Regions from separate parts of the Homo sapiens genome. Here regions 1, 2, 3 and 4 are each reported to be linked to region 5. The links are microRNA targets in miRTarBase. Many come from high-throughput screens and were not tested one by one. Region 5 holds a microRNA gene; each other region holds the end of a gene's coding sequence. Distances are between the middles of the regions.
The links. The annotated mature microRNA hsa-miR-324-3p reads CCCACUGCCCCAGGUGCUGCUGG and lies in region 5 at 1,364-1,386, shown strand. An mRNA with a match to its seed (bases 2 to 7 or 8) in the 3' UTR can be bound and repressed. Matches are read on the target gene's strand: a 7mer-m8 pairs with bases 2 to 8, a 7mer-A1 pairs with bases 2 to 7 and ends in A, and an 8mer does both.

Region 1 (4,000 bases), 5.2 Mb from region 5:
CTGGGCCTCAAGCCCTTCGCGTGCGACGCGTGCGGCATGCGGTTCACGCGCCAGTACCGCCTCACGGAGCACATGCGCATCCACTCGGGCGAGAAGCCCTACGAGTGCCAGGTGTGCGGCGGCAAGTTCGCACAGCAACGCAACCTCATCAGCCACATGAAGATGCACGCCGTGGGGGGCGCGGCCGGCGCGGCCGGGGCGCTGGCGGGCTTGGGGGGGCTCCCCGGCGTCCCCGGCCCCGACGGCAAGGGCAAGCTCGACTTCCCCGAGGGCGTCTTTGCTGTGGCTCGCCTCACGGCCGAGCAGCTGAGCCTGAAGCAGCAGGACAAGGCGGCCGCGGCCGAGCTGCTGGCGCAGACCACGCACTTCCTGCACGACCCCAAGGTGGCGCTGGAGAGCCTCTACCCGCTGGCCAAGTTCACGGCCGAGCTGGGCCTCAGCCCCGACAAGGCGGCCGAGGTGCTGAGCCAGGGCGCTCACCTGGCGGCCGGGCCCGACGGCCGGACCATCGACCGTTTCTCTCCCACCTAGAGCGCCCCTCGCCAGCCCGCTCTGTCGCTGCTGCGCGGCCCTGGCCCGCACCCCAGGGAGCGGCGGGGGCGGCGCGCAGGGCCCACTGTGCCCGGGACAACCGCAGCGTCGCCACAGTGGCGGCTCCACCTCTCGGCGGCCTCACCTGGCCTCACTGCTTCGTGCCTTAGCTCGGGGGTCGGGGGAGAACCCCGGGACGGGGGTGGGATGGGGTAAGGGAAATTTATATTTTTGATATCAGCTTTGACCAAAGGAGACCCCAGGCCCCTCCCGCCTCTTCCTGTGGTTCGTCGGCCCCCTCCCCCGGCTCCGCGCTGCTCTTAGAGGGGGAGGGGTGTCACTGTCGGGGCACTCCTAGCCCTACCTCCGGCCCTTGCGACCACACCCATTCTCACTGTGAATCTCCCCGCTGGGGTCGGAGCGTCGGGCAGAGTTGGGGAGTGGGGAGGGGACTGAGCCGGCCGGAGGGCCCCCCGCACCCCCGCTCCCACCCACCCCGGGACTGATAATGTGAAGTTCCTCATTTTGCACAAGTGGCACTAGCCCCAGGGCCAACCCTTCCTTCCTCAGTCACCAAGGGCGGGGAGTTCTGGAGTCGGAAGGCGAAGAGCCTACCACCAGGTCTCCCACTCCCGCGGTGCCCTCCCTTCCCTTCCCTGCGGCCCCGGACCATATTTATTGCATGCGCCCCGGCGGCCCCCCATCCCGAGCCCAGGCTGGGCTGGGCTGGAACGCGGTCTCTTTAGCTCCCTCCTCTTCGTTTGTATATTTCCTACCTTGTACACAGGCTCTTCCAGAGCCGCTTCCATTTTCTATACTCGAACCAAACAGCAATAAAGCAGTAACCAAGGACCCCGACCCCGCTGCTCTCTTCTGCCCCTGCACAAGGACCTGGATGGGCTGCGCCCGCTGGGTGGAGGAGCCAGAAAGGGCCACCCTCACACAGGTGCAGAGGCTTGGACCTGCCTCCCTCCCCAGTCCCAGAAACAGATCAGCAAGAGGTCAGGTATGTTTCATAACTAAAAATTTATTAAGGAAACAAAACCAGTGCTGCAAACGGGACAGAAAGGAGAGCTGGGTCTCCCTCCCGACCACCCAGTCATCGGCCTTCCAGCTGGGGAGAGAATCTTAAAGGAGAGGCCGGGGACCCTGTACTCCAAAGAGCCCAGTCTTCTGAGACTCTAGGGGACTCCTACCCCCAAACTACTGGCCTTGGCTCCCCTACACGGTACCCCATCGCTTCTGGCATAGTCCTGGGCCTCAGGGAGGGCAGAGCTGCGCACCCATCCTCCAGGCAGGCTGTGCAGTCAGGCCATGGGCTCTGGGGTATCCCCCACTGGTCCCATTAAGATTTGCCCCTGGCTCCACCGAAAACCCCGTCTTCCCCTAAGTTGTCCTTGTCTCTGGCCCTGGGTTTCAGGAACTCATTCTTGGTAAGGAAGCCTCCCCACTGAGGTACCAGCTAAAGGGGCAAGGAAAGGGCCCCTGTGTCAGTGTCAGTTTTTCCGGGGAGTGAGGGCAAAGCTAGAAACCAGGTTAGGCGACGGTGCCCCAGCACTGGAATGCCTCAGGCTGGGCTGTCCACGCCTGGAAGTTTCTCCCAGCACAGGAGCCGAGGGTGGAAGGCCCTGGGTGGGAGACCTGTACTAGGTTCCTGCCATGGGTAGTAGAGAGGGAAAGTTCAGAGTGAGAACCCCTATGACGAGGAACCGCGGTGAAGAAATGAAGGGGATCAGGGAGGTGAAAAGGATCAACTAGAAGGGGAAGAAGGGTGAGGGGCTATTCTGGAGGGAGGGTAGGCGGGCAAGGAGGGGTGAAGGGGGAGCTGAGGGGAGTCAGGACATTTCCTGAAGAGGAAGCTAGACGGAAAGAAAGGCCAGTGAGGAGAGAGGGAGCAGGTGGAGGCCACCCGAGAGCACGGGCCTGAGACCAGATGCCCCTTTCCTCTAGACTCATGACTGTCCACGGGGACGCAACTGGCGAAGTGTGAGGGACCCAGGTTGATAAGGGCAGGAAGAGGAGCAGCAGGAAGGGTGTGTGGTAAGTCTGGGGTGGATGGTAGAAGAGGTGGGGGCCCAGGGCTGCTGTTAGGGACATGCTGTCTAGAAGCCGACTTGGGTTCATGGGCGAGTCCAGGCCTCAGGGAGACTGGGGACACACACCCTGGGCACTTCTTCCTGACTTAACCAAAGCCTCTTGAACACATTCACGACAGAGGTTCTGAAGATGAAAGGGAACTGTGATTTCACTGCATCTGACGGAAACTCAGAACCCCTGCCCTGTCTCCACTGGAGAAAGTGGCTGCGTCCCCAGGCGAGAAGGCCCTCCCTCAGCCTTGGAATGAGACGGGGGAGGGAGAAAGGCTGAGAGCATGGGCGGCCTATCTGGCTTGCCCAGCTGCTGTTGCTGTAGCCAGCCACCTCCCTGCTAAATCCTGGCAGCCCAGGAGGGTCCCAGCAGCTTCCGCCCGATCCTTGGGAGGGGCTCTGTGAGGAGCAGGTCCCCCACAGCATGGCCGTGGCGTGGGTTGGAAGAGGATGGTTTATTGTCTGGGTGGATTGGTGGCTCAGGCACGTGGGCATCTTCCGTGCTACACTGGGCGCCTGGTGGCCTTTCAGGAACGGTTCCACGGGGGGGGGGCCCCAGTGTGGCTCCCTCAGCCCACCTGGGCCCACGTGAGGAAGGCTGGGATGTCCCGTACAGGAACATTCCTTGTGAGCGCCTTCACACGCAGGTTCCGGTCATCCGTCAACAGCACCACCTCCCGCAGTAGCCGGATTGGCTCCTCTGTGGGCATGAGAGAGCAGAAGGCTGTCACTGAGGACAGGAGGCAGAGGGCTGGCTGCTCTTCTCACCCTGGAGAATGTGGTCCTGGGGAGGGGGTGCCACGCTAGCCGTGTCTTGGCTCTTCTACCAGTCCTTTCCTCCGTCCGGGCTCTCAGCCCCGGGGACCCTCCCCTGCTGGCCTAGAGAGGGCTGCACTGGGCTTCTGCCTTGACTCCGGCCTCCCATACAGGACTCTCTTCTGCCTAGTTCCCAAAAGCTGCCCAAACCCGTCAGCCTCCCAGGACCCTAAACTGAGGGAATAGAAGCAGCCCCTTGACCTCTACTCCTTTTTACCACATGGCTGGCCCCCAGATCACAACACCGCTCTCCCCACACCCCACTTTTTTTTTTTTAACAAGTCCTCTCCCTCTAAAAGCCAGCAGGTTGAAGCTTTACGCATCCAGAGGCAGAAAACTAAAGATGGAACAGAAAATGTATCCAGGGTTTTCCAGATGTGGGGAGAGGGGTTAAGGGAGCCCTGAGGAGAGGAGAGGGTAAGGGTCTTGGCAGAATTGTGCCAAGGGCACACCAAGGCTTTGGCCAACCGGTCGCCCCTGCTAAGTAACAGTAATCCATGTATACAGGCGAAAGTCTCTAAGAGGACAGAAGAGTAAAAAGGAAGAGTAGAGTTAAGATGATGATC
Region 2 (4,000 bases), not on the chromosome of region 5:
TACCATGTAGGGAGGAGACCCTGACCTTACCTGCACCTTCTGTATCCAGAAATACAAGGCGGCCAAGAACCCCAGCCCCACCACCCGACCTGTGAGCCGCCGGTGCGCAATCAACGCCCGGAACGCTTTGACAGCCCTGTTCACCTCCAGCGGCCGCCCACCCTCCCAGCCCAACACCCAGGACAAAACACCCAGCAAGGTGACGGCTCGACCCTCCCAGCCCCCACTACCTCGGCGCTCAACCCGCCTCAAAACCTGATAGAGGGACCTCCCTGTCCCTGGCCTGCCTGGGTCCAGATCTGCTAATGCTTTTTAGGAGTCTGCCTGGAAACTTTGACATGGTTCATGTTTTTACTCAAAATCCAATAAAACAAGGTAGTTTGGCTGTGCAGTTCCCACCAGTACTTCTGTCTGGGTGGATAGGGGAAGGGGGGCACCCCAGCCAACTCTCAGCCAGCACCCAGCCTCTCTGGGCCATGTGGTGGCAGAAACAGAAGGCCAGACAGGCTCCCTGGGAACCAGGGACTCTGGATCATGAGGCACTTCACCTGTCTGAACTTGGGTATCCCTCTTTTAAAAAAATTTTTAGGCGGGGCGTGGTGGCTCACACCTGTAATCCCAGCACTTTGGGAGGCTGAGACGGGTGGATCACCTGAGGTCAGGAGTTCAAAACCAGCCTGGCCAACATGGCAAAACCGTCTCCACTAAAAAATACAAAAATTAGCTGGGTGTTGTGGCGGGCGCCTGTAATCCCAGCTACTCGGGAGGCTGAGGCAGGGAGAATTGCTTGAACCCGGGAGGTGGAGGTTGCAGTGAGCCGAGATCGTGCCTGTGCACTCCAGCTTGGGCAAAAGAGTGAGACTCCATCTCAAAAAAAAAAATTTTAATTTTTGAGCCAGGCGGGGTGGCTCATGCCTATAATCCCAGTACTTTGGGAGGCTGAGGTGGGCGGGTCACCTGAGGTCAGGAGTTTGAGATCAGCTTGGCTAACATGGAGAAATCCCGTCTCTACTAAAAATACAATTAGCCAGGCATGGTGGCGCGCACCTGTAATCCCAGCTACTCGGGAGGCTGAGACAGTGAGGCAGGAGAATCGCTTCAACCTGGGAGGCAGAGGTTGCAGTGAGCCGAGATCGTGCCATTGCACTCCAGCCTAGGTGACTCCATCTCAAAAAAAAAATTTTAATTTTTATTTTTATTTATTTTTTGAGATGGAGTCTCGCTGTCTCTCAGGATGGAGTGCAATGACCCGATCTCAGCTCACTGAAACCTCCACCTCCCAGGTTCAAGTGATTCTCCTACCTCAGCCTCCTGAGGAGCTGGGATTACAGGTGCACACCACCACGCCCAACTTTTTGTATTTTTAGTATAGACAGGGTTTCGCCATGTTGGCGAGGCTGGTCTTGAACTCCTGACCTTAAATGATCTGCCTGCCTTGGCCTCCCAAAGTGCTGAGATTACAGGCGTGAGCCACCGCACATGGCTAATTTTTATTTTTTTGAGGCGGGGTCTGGCTGTGTTGCTCAAACTGGAGTACAGTGGTGCCAATCTTGGCTCACTGCAACCTCTGCCTCCCAGGCTTAAGCCATCCTCCCACCTCAACTTCCCGAGTAGCTGGGACCACAGGCGTGCGCCATCACGCCTGGGTAATTTTTTGTATGTTCTTGGTAGAGATGGTGTTTCGCCATGTTCCCCAGGCTGGTCTCAAATTCCTGGGCTCGAGCAATCCGCCCACTGTGGCATTCCAAACTGCTGGGATTATAGGTGTGAGCCACTGTGCGTGGCCAAGTTTCCCTCTTAATAACGTATCAGAGCTGGGGAAGTTCCTTTGGCTGGAGGCCTAGCAAGGTCAAGTGACTTGCTGAAGACCACGCAGTTGGTAAGTGGCTGGGATTTGACCCGGGCCTGAGCTCTCCGACCCATGCTGGCCTGTCTCTCCAGCTGCACCCTTTGGAGTGCAGGAGTGGGGTCCTTGCTGCTCAGGCCCTCTGGTTCTCTTCTTGGTTCACTAGCAGGCACCCCACCCTCCTGGTCAGGCGACCCTAAGATGAATCATGGGTGGATGGGGCCTGGGCTGAGTTGGCCCTTTACTTCTGCTATTTCCTCATTAGAAAGACCCATAGAGATAAACGACCAGACCAACCCTATTACTGGGGAGACAGGCCAAGAGTGGGAGGGCAATGCTGAGGCTGCATAGCATGTCTTAGCATGTTGGCTGTCTTGGTGAAAGGCCCTAGTACCCAGAGAGGCTGAGAGCATCACACAAGGTCACACAGCATGTCCAACAGTCTCAACTGGGCTTCTGGGCTAGGAAGCAGCTGCTGGCCAGGAATGTATCAGGTAGGGAGGAAGCCCTGCCCTCACCTGCACCTTCTGTGTCCAGAAGTACAGGTGACCAAGAACCCCAGCCCTACCACCTGGCCTCTGAGCCGCCAGTATAGGATCAACACCTGAACACCTAGACAGTCCTGTTCGCCTCCAGCAGCTGCTGGGGTTCTCGTCCTGGGATACAGAGGAGAGAGGCACAGCGGTGTGGGAGACCCATTTAATGTGGACACTCAAGGCCTGGGCAGAGTGGGGAGCGCCCAGGAGTTGGGTGGGCAGGCAAGTGGGTGGGTTGCAGGCCCACTCTTGGCCCCAGGAGGGCATGCCAGGTGGTGGGGGCTGGCCCAGGTAGGCCAAGGGGAGGCCCAGGCAGGAAGGGTGGCCCAGGCAGGCAGACCCACCAGGGGTCCCTGAAGGCCAGCCCTTGAGAAGGTGTCTAAGCCAGGGGGTGAGTGCCCAGGCCAGAGCCTAGCCCAGGGAGGCAGGGTTGGGTCCCGGTTGGGGGCTCTTGGAGCCTAGGGGCTGGCATCACTGGGGGCCTCCCCGAGCTGCTGCTGGAACTCCAGGCGTGTCTGCCGGTTGGACTCCAGCAGCTCCTGGAGGCGGGCGTGGAGGTGGTCATTCTTCTCCTCCAGGTGGTCCAGACAGGAGTTGATCTGGTCCAGCATGGAGTTGATGGCAGCGTATTCTGGGAGGAAGGCGAAAGACAGAGCCCAGATCCTGTGTCTCCTTGGGGCTAATGGACACCCTCCCTCCACTGTTTCCCAGCCTGCTTCCCAAAGGGCTTTGTGCAAGTCCCTACTGCTTCCTGAGCCTCAGTGTCACCGTCTGGAAAATGGGTGGAATACCAAAAGAGGAGTGGCTTTGAATGAATGACACTTTAGTACTGCATCCTTTTTTCTAGGGTTAGGGTGGTCATAGGGTGGCGAGCCAGTGTCCTACATGGGAAGTCCTGCCAGATGCCAAGTCTCTGCACTTCCTGCAGCAGCTGCTTAGTGGCCAGAGCCCACATTCCTGAGTTGGGCATTCAAGGCCTCTGTCCCCAGATGGGCCCTGTTCGCCAGCCCTTCTGTGGCTCCCTCAGGATAAAACACCCAGCGGAGTCTCCAGCCCCTGCCTCCTAGCTAGCCCTGCCTCCCTGCCTCTTCCTTTCCTCTCTCACACCTGCCTTTACCTACCTCAGGCCCTTTGAACATGCTGCTGTCTCTGCCTGGAAGGTGCTGGGTCCTCCCATCTTCCTTCCCTTCTCTCCTCCTGGATGAGTCCCACTCATCCTTCAAGTCTCAGTATGGATGTCACCACCGGGAGCCCACCCAATGCCCCAGACTGGATCAGGCCTCTATGCTGAGCCCCTAGCCCTCCTCAGCCCTCCACGACCTTCTCTCCAGGATTGACTGCTGTGCTTATCTGAGTGCTGTTATGTTTCCCCATGAAAGATGAACGGTCCTGTGTTCGCTGCTGGCTCCCTGGTGCCCTCACAGTTTTGCAATAAGCATTTGTTGAATGACTGAGTGAGTGAATGAATGAAGCCTCTGACTTTCCAGCCTCTCCGCCATTGCTCAACTATCCCTGCAACCTAGAATGCCTCAACCACAACAGCCCTTCAAGGACCAGCTCAAAATGCCTCCTCCAAGAAGCCTTCCCTGGTCTCCACTAGAAACCATCACTCCCTCCC
Region 3 (4,000 bases), not on the chromosome of region 5:
TTTTAACTTCTCACCATCTCTCTGCAGAAACCCTGGTTCTATGACATGAAGAAAGTTTGGGAGGGATATCCCATACAGGTATGAGTTCTGCTTCCTCATGTGGGGGTGGACTAAGACACACCCTAGTGAAGAGACGGTTTGTGGAATCCATGGCAGAGGGATTAGAGTGATGGAATGAAGAACCTCAGGGGCTAGGGGGTTTGTGGAGTGGGGACACCCTTGCGGCTGGTTGCTCTTACCTCTCTCTCCTCTCCCAGAGCACTATCCCTTCCCAGTATTGGTACTACATGATTGAACTTTCCTTCTACTGGTCCCTGCTCTTCAGCATTGCCTCTGATGTCAAGCGAAAGGTGGGTGAAGGGGTTGTGCAATTAAGCCTCAGAGCCAAAATGAGGCCCTGGGATGAACACCCTCTCCTTTGACTTCTGGGTACTCTGAATGGAGCTGTTGGTATATGGGGAACCAAAGGCAAGGGGTAAGAAGGCATAGTGAGAGCTGGGGAATAAAAAAAGGCCCTGGGGCCTGCATCATCTCTGCAGGATTTCAAGGAACAGATCATCCACCATGTGGCCACCATCATTCTCATCAGCTTTTCCTGGTTTGCCAATTACATCCGAGCTGGGACTCTAATCATGGCTCTGCATGACTCTTCCGATTACCTGCTGGAGGTCAGGCTTCCTCAAATCTAGAGACCCTGGTGCAGGTTCTTCTGTCCCTTTGGTTTTCTTTGGGAGGGAGGTGCGGGGTGGGAATTTGGAGGATGACATTCCTGGGACCAAGGAGGAGGGCACAGAGTCAGTGCTCCTAACTGGAGTGTACATATGAATGTACTCGAGGGAGTCAGGAGCCCATGATGATGGATGGGGGCTCTCTATGCAGTCAGCCAAGATGTTTAACTACGCGGGATGGAAGAACACCTGCAACAACATCTTCATCGTCTTCGCCATTGTTTTTATCATCACCCGACTGGTCATCCTGCCCTTCTGGTGAGTAGGCAGCTAGGCTACACTCCTGTTCTGAAGAAATCAGGAGCCTTGCCTTTCTTCCCCTCCTGTATCTCCCCGGTGTCTGACCTGCTCTTGTCCACGTTCTCTCTCTCCTTGAATCCTCAGGATCCTGCATTGCACCCTGGTGTACCCACTGGAGCTCTATCCTGCCTTCTTTGGCTATTACTTCTTCAATTCCATGATGGGAGTTCTACAGCTGCTGCATATCTTCTGGGCCTACCTCATTTTGCGCATGGCCCACAAGTTCATAACTGGAAAGGTGAAGCCCTGTTCCCATTGTGTAGGCCTTACTACTCTCTACAACTTCCTGAACTCCCATCTTGCCAGTAACTCTCTAAAAAACTAGTGTGGAGCCCTGGGTATAACAGGAACAAGCCCTCAGAGAGAAGCAGTACTTAGGGGTTTGAGGATCTCATGTAATAACCCTTCTTGTCCCTTTTCCACAGCTGGTAGAAGATGAACGCAGTGACCGGGAAGAAACAGAGAGCTCAGAGGGGGAGGAGGCTGCAGCTGGGGGAGGAGCAAAGAGCCGGCCCCTAGCCAATGGCCACCCCATCCTCAATAACAACCATCGTAAGAATGACTGAACCATTACTCCAGCTGCCTCCCAGATTAATGCATAAAGCCAAGGAACTACCCCGCTCCCTGCGCTATAGGGTCACTTTAAGCTCTGGGGAAAAAGGAGAAAGTGAGAGGAGAGTTCTCTGCATCCTCCCTCCTTGCTTGTCACCCAGTTGCCTTTAAACCAAATTCTAACCAGCCTATCCCCAGGTAGGGGGACGTTGGTTATATTCTGTTAGAGGGGGACGGTCGTATTTTCCTCCCTACCCGCCAAGTCATCCTTTCTACTGCTTTTGAGGCCCTCCCTCAGCTCTCTGTGGGTAGGGGTTACAATTCACATTCCTTATTCTGAGAATTTGGCCCCAGCTGTTTGCCTTTGACTCCCTGACCTCCAGAGCCAGGGTTGTGCCTTATTGTCCCATCTGTGGGCCTCATTCTGCCAAAGCTGGACCAAGGCTAACCTTTCTAAGCTCCCTAACTTGGGCCAGAAACCAAAGCTGAGCTTTTAACTTTCTCCCTCTATGACACAAATGAATTGAGGGTAGGAGGAGGGTGCACATAACCCTTACCCTACCTCTGCCAAAAAGTGGGGGCTGTACTGGGGACTGCTCGGATGATCTTTCTTAGTGCTACTTCTTTCAGCTGTCCCTGTAGCGACAGGTCTAAGATCTGACTGCCTCCTCCTTTCTCTGGCCTCTTCCCCCTTCCCTCTTCTCTTCAGCTAGGCTAGCTGGTTTGGAGTAGAATGGCAACTAATTCTAATTTTTATTTATTAAATATTTGGGGTTTTGGTTTTAAAGCCAGAATTACGGCTAGCACCTAGCATTTCAGCAGAGGGACCATTTTAGACCAAAATGTACTGTTAATGGGTTTTTTTTAAAAATTAAAAGATTAAATAAAAAATATTAAATAAAACATGGCAATAAGTGTCAGACTATTAGGAATTGAGAAGGGGGATCAACTAAATAAACGAAGAGAGTCTTTCTTATGCCTTCCTTGCAGTTATGTAATATTTTCTTTTTTAAATTTCACATGCATGTAATTTGAGCACTTTGAGGGGCCAAGGAGGGTGGATCACTAGAGGTCAGGAGTTTGAGACCAGCCTGGCCAACATGGCGAAACCCCATCTCTACTAAAAATACATCTAGCTGGGTGTGGTGGCGGGCGACTGTAATCTCAGCTACTTAGGAGGCTGAGGCAGGAGAATCACCTGAACCCGGGAGGCGGAGGCTGCAGTGAGTCGAGATTGCACCATTGCACTCCAGCCTGGGTGACAGAGCGAGAACTCCATCTAAAAAAATTCACATGCAAGAAGCAAAGGTAGACAAGGTAGAAGATGAATGACAGCAGCCCACAGGGGAGGATGGGGATAATACCTCACTGAAAGATCCAGAATTGGGAGTATCGGGCTGAGAGAGAGAAACAAAACCACAATCTTAGTTTTATCATATTGTTAAAAGACTTTCAAGAAATAATACAAACTGGAGATAGTAGATACACAGGCTCCATTCTAAGAACAAAGTCTGTTAGAAGCAGGAACACTTGGACAAATATGGGATGGGAGGGATGTCAGGCCGAGGTTAGAGTGGTGATCTCTCCCCACCCTTTAGGGCCTTTGGAGGTGGAGAAGGGATCCTGCCTGCTAGCACCACATTGGAAGGGATCATCTGGTCCAGAACCCCCATTTCTATCAACTAGGAGCTGGGGGGAGTAGCTAGCCCAGAGACTTCGGGTCAGGGTTCAACAATCAGGAAGACCCAGTTCCTGAGGAAACGACAGTTCAAGAAGGGTTGGGAAGAAGGCTGTCCTCTAAAGAAGACGTCCTCTGCATTCAATGGCCCCACAGCAACAGAGTAGCTCCTTGCCTTCCACACTGCCCACCTCGTAGTTGTAGTCCCAAGTAAGTTCTGTCCCAGCCCGGATTCTTCTGAAGAGGAAGAAAAGGATGGTGTGTGGCAAAGACAGCAGATAACCCAGGCACTTGGGGTTACTGAATATGTAGGTGGAGTTGGATCATGAATGGAGGAGGGGCCCTTAGAACTTCAGTGGTCCTTGCCCCTCCCCAGTCATCCCCTTTCCTGACTCCTTACTTGCTGGCAAAGAAGGCCACCCAGGGGAAGCGAAGATCATGGGTATCCACGAAGACATTCTGGACAAACAGGTTGGGGCTGCAACTGTGCTGTAGGTTTAAGGACAGGATCAAATAAGAACCAGGGAAACTGAACCTGGCTTTGCAGGGAGAGTGAGAGTTGGAAGAAAAATGATGCCATCTGACCCTCCCCATTATAATAGATGCTTTGAAAGAAAGCTACCTCTTTAAGATCCTTTGAGATCAAGAGTTTATAACAAGAAAAGGGCTTATAGAGTATGTTAAAAGAAATCTGAGGACCATGGGATAATCCAGCATCTAGAGGTGGGGAGAGGGGTCTCAC
Region 4 (4,000 bases), not on the chromosome of region 5:
AAGAAAGAAAGAGGGATGTTTTATGTAGTTTTTCAAGTGAATGTACTTCCAAACAGTAAAGTGAAATTACTTTTCTCTTTCCTTGTCCACTTTCAGGCTAAGCTTAGAAGCAGTCATTTGCTTTAAAGAAATGTTAGCCAACTCATGGAACTGCCTTCCAAAACACTTACTTCACAGTGTTAATCAGAGGTTTGGTAGTAACAACACTTCTGGATCTTAAGGCTTCATAAATAATGCCTATGATCACCTTGCATGGACAGCAATCCTGTAAACATCACAGAGTGGCATCATTTGTATAATTATATGCATTGTTGTAGTTTGCACCTGTTGGTTTTAATGTGCATGTGAATGGCCTAGAGAACCTATTTTTGTGTCTAAAGTTTACAATAAATGTATTTAACACCAGTAGCTGTCCTCTATTAAAGTAAAGTAATGGTTGGGCTTTTTACCCTGAAGAATGGTTGCTACATTTTCTTTTCAGTAACTTCAGGATATGTATCTGTAGAAACATTATAGTCTTACCATCATCAAAATGCTGAAGTCATTTTTTGAAAACATTATAGATTTTTTTTTTTTTAATGGCAAGAGTAGTCTATAGTTATGTAACCTAGTGTTGTAAATACAATATAATAAAGGTTTTTTTTTTTAAACATTAATATTCACATTATGACGAAGCTGGAAAAACAAAGTGTGGAGGGACCAACAACTGTTCAGTACTTTGACCTTAATGCTTCAGTGTAGGGGCTGGAGCAAGTGGTCATGCTGAATACAGGCAGGTGCTGTCCAGTCAATTAAAAAGTTTTTTTTTAATTAATAGGTTTTATAGCTCATGAAGGAATGGAAATAATGATGACATCATTTTCCATTCTGTTAAGAGACAGAGGAAAAGTGGGTTAGAGTCTTTAGTGGTAAGCCTAAAATGCGCTTCTGGTATTATAGGTTAAGATACTCTAACGTGCTATATTGGTAATTAATTACTAAAGGTGGAAATTAAAATGGTACAGAACTGAATCAGATTACAAGGAAAAAATTAAGATCAAACCTGAAGGTCTACAAATGAATAGAAATGATTAAGCTGAGTCATGAGAATTATTACTTATATTTTACATTTTGGTCTAATATTTTTTTCTGACAAGTATCAATGAAAGCAGAAGAAAATCCACTCCAATACTTAGTTTTCAAGACACAATCCTAAATATTTAAACCCCTTGTAGCTGGCCTATAATATATATATATTAGATGTTATATACAGTAGACTTACCAAGTCAATAGTTTAAGCAATCAAGCCACTTCACTGTTCAGTTTCTTTACATCATGAAATGAATACTTGGTATTAACCTCCCAAATTTCAAGAAAATGTAGAATAACTACAGATGTATATAATTAGCATTTAACTGTCCACAAATACTTTAGGAAATCCTATCATAGTGTTTCCTCTATATAAAACTGGGAAAAAAACAAGAATTAAGTCCTTTTGGTGAATATAGCAAGGCAATGTTTAGTTCATTTGGCCTGTAATATATATATTAGATGTTATATACAGTAGACTTACCAAGTCAATAGTTTAAGCAATCAAGCCACTTCACTGTTCAGTTTCTTTACATCATGAAATGAATACTTGGTATTAACCTCCCAAATTTCAAGAAAATGTAGAATAACTACAGATGTATATTAATTAGCATTTAACTGTCCACAAATACTTTTGGAAATCCTATCATAGACAGTGTTTCCTCTATATAAAACTGGGAAAAAACAAGAAGTAAGTCCTTTTGGTGAATATAGCAAGGCAATGTTTAGTTCATTTTTATAATGCGGAAATCCTGATACATGGTGCTTTCATCTTTGAACTTCCAAAAGGCTATAAAATTGGCTCTTCTCAAATATTTTAGAATTTCATTTCAGCTATTTCCTTTTTACGTTCAGAAGATTGGGTGCAGACACTTTCACTTTGCCAGGAATGTTTCTTGATAAATCTGTGTCCTAAAAAAAGAAAATTGCTGAATATCTTCACATCCTGTATGGTCAATCATGTTTCTTTTATGACAAAAACGAAAAACATTTCCAAACTTTTAGCTGAGATGGTTTTACTGCTTCTAATAAGACAGCATTTTCTACTAAAATAACAAAAAACTGCTAACATTTTAAATTGTACTGTCAGTCTCCACATTCCTTTTCTGAAGGAGAACTTTACCTTTACGCTGCGGAATAAGTCTTTTTCTCTTGCTGTTGCTTCTTTGGAATGCATGAAACTATTCAAGGCTGTTTTTGCAGCTGTAAATACAAAAAAGAGTAAGAATAATCTACTGTTAAGTCACTGAACTGTTTAAAATCATAATTCAAAAAAACAAATTTAAATACCTTTTCCCTTTTTCTGCACTCCAGGAGTAAGTTTCACTTTATATCTTTAAAAAGGAATTACATGTGTTACTAAATAGACGTTACAAAACAATTCACAAAAGCCATTCTGTCAACTAATGGTAACTTACTTGTAGTTTGTCATGGTGGTGTAAGGGGCACATATTGGAATGGCAAACAGTAGTACATCTTCAGGATGTGGCTGGCCTGTCAAAGAATCAAATAGGTTTTCCTAAAAAGGGAAAATAACAGTTACAAAGGCAATTTATACCGCCCTTTACAAAAAATGCTAAAACACTTGAATTAGTATCTCAACATATTTTTTATCTTTTCCTGATATACATACCATCTAAGCTGGAACAGTGGTACTTAAACTCTGCTTCATAGTTCCAAAGAGTTGAAGACCAATGTTTAAATATATTCTTTACTACTTAATTTTTGCCTAGCATAATAAGTAATGAGAACAATAATTTTCAAAATCCTACCTACAGTTACATTTAAGAGAAAGAAGGCCCAGGAGCAGTGGTTCACGCCTATAATCCTAGGACTCTGGAAGGCTCAGGCTGAGGCGGGTGGATCGCTTGAGCCCAGGAGTTCAAGACCAGCCTAAGCAACATGGAGAAACACCATCTCTACAAAAAATATAAAAGTTAGCTGGGTATAGTGGGTGCCTGTAGTCCCAGCTACTCGGAAGACTGAGGGGGGGAGGATCACCTGAGCCCAGGAGGTAGACGTTGTGGAGAGCCATGATCCTGTCACTGCACTGGGTGACACCAGCCTGGGTGACAGAGACCCTGTCTCAAAAAAAAAAAAAAAAGGAAAAAAACTATTGGATATTACCTGAGTTGCAGAAACCTGCTGTGGATTAAAATGATGCAATAATAACCACAAATAGATTTAAGTCCTATCACATGGAAATGGGACTAATACCTTGGCTATACCACTATTTCTCGTCCTGGGGAGATTCTGCCCTCAGAAGACAATGGGCAATGTCTAGAGATAGTTTTCGTTGACACGATGAGGGGTGAGAAGGAATAGGTAGGGGCTGCTACTGGGATCTAGTGGGTAAAGGCCGAGGATGTCGCTAAACATTTTATAATGAATGGGACAGACCCCACAACAAAGAATTAACCAACCCCTAATGTTAATAGTGCCAAAGTTGAGAAACCCTGGGCTAGAACAGCCTTCTCTCTTACCCATTATTAAGGAGAAATCCCAGAGTTCTTATTTGCTGTGCTGCCTGTGAGATTGCCCCCATTTATTTTACAATATGAATAAACTTAGATTTAGGACAGAATGCTTGGTGCTGAAGTATAATTAATATTTGAGTGTTTGCTATGTGCCATAAACTTTTCTAAATGCCCTTTACATACATTAGTTATCAAAACAACCCTCTCCTGGGTAGGGACATTATCCCCATTCTTCAGATGAGGAAACTGAGGCACAAAGAATGTTTCCAAGTTTGTACAGTTACATATAGCAGAGTTGGGATTAAGACCCCGAAAGTTTGACTTCGTAGCCTGCAGTCTTGTCTTAGGTTTCTAAGTTTTAATAAGTTGTGTTTCAAACATTCTGGGAACTGAATTGTAATCACAGTGTTGTAGTAGGAACCCCAACATAAAATCATACCTCATTTCCCTGTTGA
Region 5 (4,000 bases):
GCATAGAGGTCGATGGCCCCGTCTGCCAGCCGCTGCAGCAGAAACTGTTCATCTGTCCGGTAGGTGGGGTGGGGGTGGGGGTGGGGGCATTAGTCTCAAGGAGAGGAAAGGGAGGGGCGGAATGGTGTAGAGCTCACTTACTGACAATCCCCTTCTTGTGTTTTATCAGCTTGGCCTCCACCACAGTGGCAAACTGCTCCAGAGCCCGTACTGCCTTAAGAGATGGGGACAGTGCGGGGCTCAGAGGGGCCATCGGCTGCAGTCCCTGATGCAGGCTCTCCTGGACCCCTGGCCACTTACCAGCTCGCCACTCCGACTCAACTCCGGGTGGACAAGTCCGCTGAGACTCAGGCCGCTGCCCAGCCCTGCCCGCCTGAGAGGAAGAGGGAGAATGACTGGTTAGTTGCCATACACCACCCTGCCCTCCCCTGGCTCTGGCCCTAAGCCTACCGCCTCAGCTGTTTGCCTGCCTCTCCTAGCAGGAGGCCAGCATTCCCAAAGGGATTCTTTAGAGCACTGCCAAGCCCAGAGAGCTCCTTTCCTTTGTCCTATGGGGGAAGAGGGTCCAGCAGTCAGGACTCACTGTCCTCCCCACCTCTACCCCCACCCAATTCTCTGTCTTACCATACAGCCCTGCAGAGCCACAAACAGCCGAAGAATGTCATTTGTCCCCTCAAAGATCCGGAAGATGCGAAGATCTCGGAGCACACGCTCTACTCCAGGTTCCTAGCACAGGGCCACACAAATTATATGCCCGTGCTGAGATGTGCCTACCCACCCCTGGCCCAGCCGAGGCTCTGCAGAAGACCGTCCTGTACCTTCATGAAGCCCATACCCCCCATGATTTGGATGCATTCATCTGTCACCTTCCAGGCTGCCTCCTAGGGACAAAGAACAGATGAGACTGGTTTTGGGAGCTGAGCACCCAAACTGGACTCCCTCCCAGCATGCCTGGGACCTCACCGAGCCAAAGATTTTGCTGATGGCGGCCTCTATCTGGAAGTCCGTGGCTCCCTGGTCCATGTTAGCACTCACCATGTAAGCCATGGACTGAGGTTGCATAGTTGGGACATGGGAAGGAAAATTGCAAAGGGCTTTGTCAGACTTGGCCTCATCACCCAGATCTCCAAGATAAGGGCTGACCTAGCTTGTCAGGTCAGGCAGATACTTGTTCTGGGTCAGTTCATCAGGTGCTTCCAGGTATTTGTTTTCTTAAAAGGGGTGGATGTAAGGGATGAGGTAGAATTAACTTCTGGTACTGCTGGCAGGCACCTGAGCAGAACATCATTGCTGTCTCTCTTCGCAGAAGCTGAGCTGACTATGCCTCCCCGCATCCCCTAGGGCATTGGTGTAAAGCTGGAGACCCACTGCCCCAGGTGCTGCTGGGGGTTGTAGTCTGACCCGACTGGGAAGAAAGCCCCAGGGCTCCAGGGAGAGGGGCTTGGGAGGCCCTCACCTCAGTTACATACTGCAGCATAACCATCCGTGCCAGCTTCTCCTGGATCAGCCCAAAGTTGTGAATTTTCTCCCCAAACTGGGTACGATTAGTGGCATGATCTACCTGGAAGAGGGTCCACACATCCCGCTGTGGTTCAGTGTGGTTCTGCAGTCTCCCTAGGAGAGGGGCTGGGCTTGCGCCAGAGGGATGGGTTTTGCATACAACCAGAGTTCAGTCTACGCTGGATGGAGACCTAAGCTAGCAAGTCGGGCTGCTGGTAGGGGAGGAGTTTCTAGTGTAGGGAGTGCCTGCAAGTGATCAGGGACACATGGCAAGGGGGACAGTGAGACTTCTGTTTGGGTTACCTAGGGACTCGGGCAGGGTACTCACCGCCTTAGCAATGATGCCTCTCATGGTACCTGCCAGGGCCGCAGCCATGCCAAACCTTCCATTGTTGAGGATGTGCATGGCAACCTTGAAGCCACTCCCAACCTCACCCAGCACGTTCTCCGATGGCACCCGTACTCCATCAAAGAACACCTCTGCTGTGTTTGAAGCCTTGATGCCCATCTTCTTCTCAGGGGGCCCACTGTGTCAGGGCAGTGTGGGAAAGCAGAGGTGTGTTCAACAGGTTGTCACTGGGGGAAAAACTGCTCCTTCGCTCCTTATGCACCAGGGAGGAATGACGACCACTAGACTATTAGAGGCTACAGCCACCACTTCCCCTCAGGCCCTGAGGGCTAAGGAGGCCTGGCTATGTCCTATTTTGTGTTGGACTTGGTTGCTGGAGCCAAAACTTTAGCTCAGTTGCATACATATTAGTCCCAAAGGCCACATTCAGTCCACCTGCTTTGGCTTTTGCACACGTCCCCAGGGTGACTTGCAACAGCCATCTGCCCAGGAGCCCAGTCCTGCCCCTCAGTCCTAAGCTCCCCCAACCCAAATTCACTCACTGGGTAATGCCCCCGAAGCCCCTCTCCACCACAAAAGCTGTGATCTTCTCCTTCACGGCTCCTGTGGCTGGATCTGTAACTGGTGTCTTGGCAAAGACCGTGAAGATGTCTGCTAGGCCCCCATTACTGTGGAAGAATGGGATATTCAGGGCGTGGAGGACGGGGAGCAGTGGGGCCTGGAATTGGGCGGAGGAGAAGGGGAGAAATGGGAGGCAGGTTGCCTGATCCAAAGCTTGCTTCCATTGAGGGTATAGTATTTTCCACAGGGGCTGGGCACAGCAGAGGTTCGGATGGAGGCTGCATCTGACCCGCTTGAGGGCTCGGTTAGACAGAAAGCGGCCACAGTCTCCCCTGTTGGGGAGAGAGCTACTTTACCCCAAGTTCTGATGAGCTTCAAAGTCCCCTCGGCCCACTTCCCCATCCCTCCAGCAGGCAGTTCCCCCTTAACACCTGGGAGTATCCAGTTCTTTTGCATGTCCCAACCAGCACACTGTGATGCCTCCCCAAAACCTTCCCCCAACTGAAATGCTCAGCCATCTGATAATCTAAGTGCCAACTGGCCTAATCTGTGCCAAGCCCAGTGTGCCCCCCAATCCCTGGCTCTCCTAGGGTTGCCTCACCAGATGCCAGCTTGGGGAGGTATTTTTCTTTCTGGGCCTTTGTGCCAAAGAGCAGGATGCCTTTGAAACCGATGCTCTGATGGGCCCCCAGGGTAATGCCCACGCCAAGGTCATGCATGCCCACGATCTCCACCAAACGGGCGTACTGGAGGGGAAGCAGGAATCTGGGGTTGTCACTGGCTGCAGGGGGACCTGACCTTAACAGGAGAGTGTGGGCAACAGGGCAGTTCCTGACCTAGGGCAGTTCCTGACCTAGGGCAGTGCCTGACCTGGGCCATCCCCAGTGTGTAGAAAAGAAGTGGGGTGTGCAAAGGGCACAGCAGAGAATGCTGGTCTGTCTTAGGTCTAGGTAGGAGGGTGACTTGCTACTAGTCAGTCTATTGTTAGGCAATCCCCAACTTAGAGATTTGTAAGGACTTGGGAACCAGGGTGAGGCCCATGGCTCAGGCCTAGGGGACTGCATGTAAATTGTGTTATGTTTGGACAGTTAACATCCATCCCACAGGCACCCAGGGCAGGTGCTTAGAAGAGACCTTAGCCCTAGTCTCTAGGTCTATGGCAAAAGAGCTGAGTCTGCCAAGCTGGGGTATGGCATACTGGGATGTGGCGATAGGGCGCCCTCACCTGGGTGTTGCAAAGGCCCACACCACCCAGCTCACTGGGCACTTGCAGACCAAAGGCCCCCAGCTCCTTGAGGCCCTGCCAAGTGGTCTCCTCCACCATCTCCAGAGCGTCATTCTTGGCGGGATCGTTCACTTCCTGGGGAAGGCACAGGATCCCACATCCAGGCTCCTTTTGAGCTTAACATCTCCAAACACCTCACCAGGGACCAAGCCCCGAGTCATTCCTTACCTCGAAGAAACGGGACACAGGCTCCACCAGCTCTTTAAGAAACTGTGTCTGCTCTTCGTTGAGCACTGCAGAGGGTGGGGGACAGGCTGGTCAGGCCAGGCTGGCAGGGGAAACCACCCTGGCCCCACCCAGCTCTG

Region 1: the mRNA of HIC1 is a reported target of hsa-miR-324-3p. The part of its 3' UTR that is shown has no 7-base or 8-base seed match.
Region 2: the mRNA of CIZ1 is a reported target of hsa-miR-324-3p. The part of its 3' UTR that is shown has no 7-base or 8-base seed match.
Region 3: the mRNA of SETDB1 is a reported target of hsa-miR-324-3p. The part of its 3' UTR that is shown has no 7-base or 8-base seed match.
Region 4: miRTarBase lists KLHDC2 as a target of hsa-miR-324-3p. Seed matches in the 3' UTR shown: 7mer-m8 at 2,875-2,881.

Annotation. Positions count from the first base shown.
Region 1 is chr17:2,058,305-2,062,304 of GRCh38, forward strand. It overlaps HIC1 (HIC ZBTB transcriptional repressor 1), which reads left to right. Exons shown (of 2, transcript NM_006497.4): 2 at 1-4,000. The coding sequence ends at 531. SMG6 (SMG6 nonsense mediated mRNA decay factor) reads right to left here. Exons shown (of 19, transcript NM_017575.5): 19 at 1,539-3,318. The coding sequence ends at 3,188. Among named protein-coding and RNA genes, the nearest start is that of HIC1, 5.2 kb to the left of the region's middle. RefSeq lists an enhancer at 1-360 and silencers at 53-372, 393-482, 503-692, 1,023-1,092.
Region 2 is chr9:128,162,456-128,166,455 of GRCh38, reverse strand. CIZ1 (CDKN1A interacting zinc finger protein 1) reads left to right here. Exons shown (of 17, transcript NM_001131016.2): 17 at 50-391. The coding sequence ends at 259. It overlaps BBLN (bublin coiled coil protein), which reads right to left. Exons shown (of 2, transcript NM_024112.4): 2 at 2,532-3,013. The coding sequence ends at 2,841. Among named protein-coding and RNA genes, the nearest start is that of BBLN, 4.2 kb to the right of the region's middle.
Region 3 is chr1:150,963,742-150,967,741 of GRCh38, reverse strand. It overlaps SETDB1 (SET domain bifurcated histone lysine methyltransferase 1), which reads right to left. Exons shown (of 22, transcript NM_001366418.1): 21 at 3,659-3,747; 22 at 3,005-3,495. The coding sequence ends at 3,378. CERS2 (ceramide synthase 2) reads left to right here. Exons shown (of 11, transcript NM_022075.5): 6 at 28-78; 7 at 258-350; 8 at 540-668; 9 at 880-986; 10 at 1,113-1,266; 11 at 1,454-2,556. The coding sequence ends at 1,594. Among named protein-coding and RNA genes, the nearest start is that of CERS2, 9.1 kb to the left of the region's middle. RefSeq lists cis regulatory regions at 2,253, 2,889 and enhancers at 2,180-2,324, 2,817-2,961.
Region 4 is chr14:49,782,734-49,786,733 of GRCh38, forward strand. KLHDC2 (kelch domain containing 2) reads left to right here. Exons shown (of 13, transcript NM_014315.3): 13 at 97-3,652. The coding sequence ends at 220. It overlaps NEMF (nuclear export mediator factor), which reads right to left. Exons shown (of 33, transcript NM_004713.6): 29 at 3,985-4,000; 30 at 2,487-2,587; 31 at 2,359-2,402; 32 at 2,192-2,271; 33 at 1-1,980. The coding sequence ends at 1,903. Among named protein-coding and RNA genes, the nearest start is that of KLHDC2, 17 kb to the left of the region's middle.
Region 5 is chr17:7,220,694-7,224,693 of GRCh38, reverse strand. MIR324 (microRNA 324) reads left to right here and starts at 1,315; the gene lies at 1,315-1,397. It overlaps ACADVL (acyl-CoA dehydrogenase very long chain), which reads right to left. Exons shown (of 20, transcript NM_000018.4): 5 at 3,864-3,928; 6 at 3,636-3,770; 7 at 3,012-3,156; 8 at 2,613-2,742; 9 at 2,392-2,517; 10 at 1,829-2,027; 11 at 1,457-1,561; 12 at 964-1,050; 13 at 819-881; 14 at 625-726; 15 at 451-548; 16 at 301-373; 17 at 142-214; 18 at 1-52. RefSeq lists an enhancer at 3,857-4,000.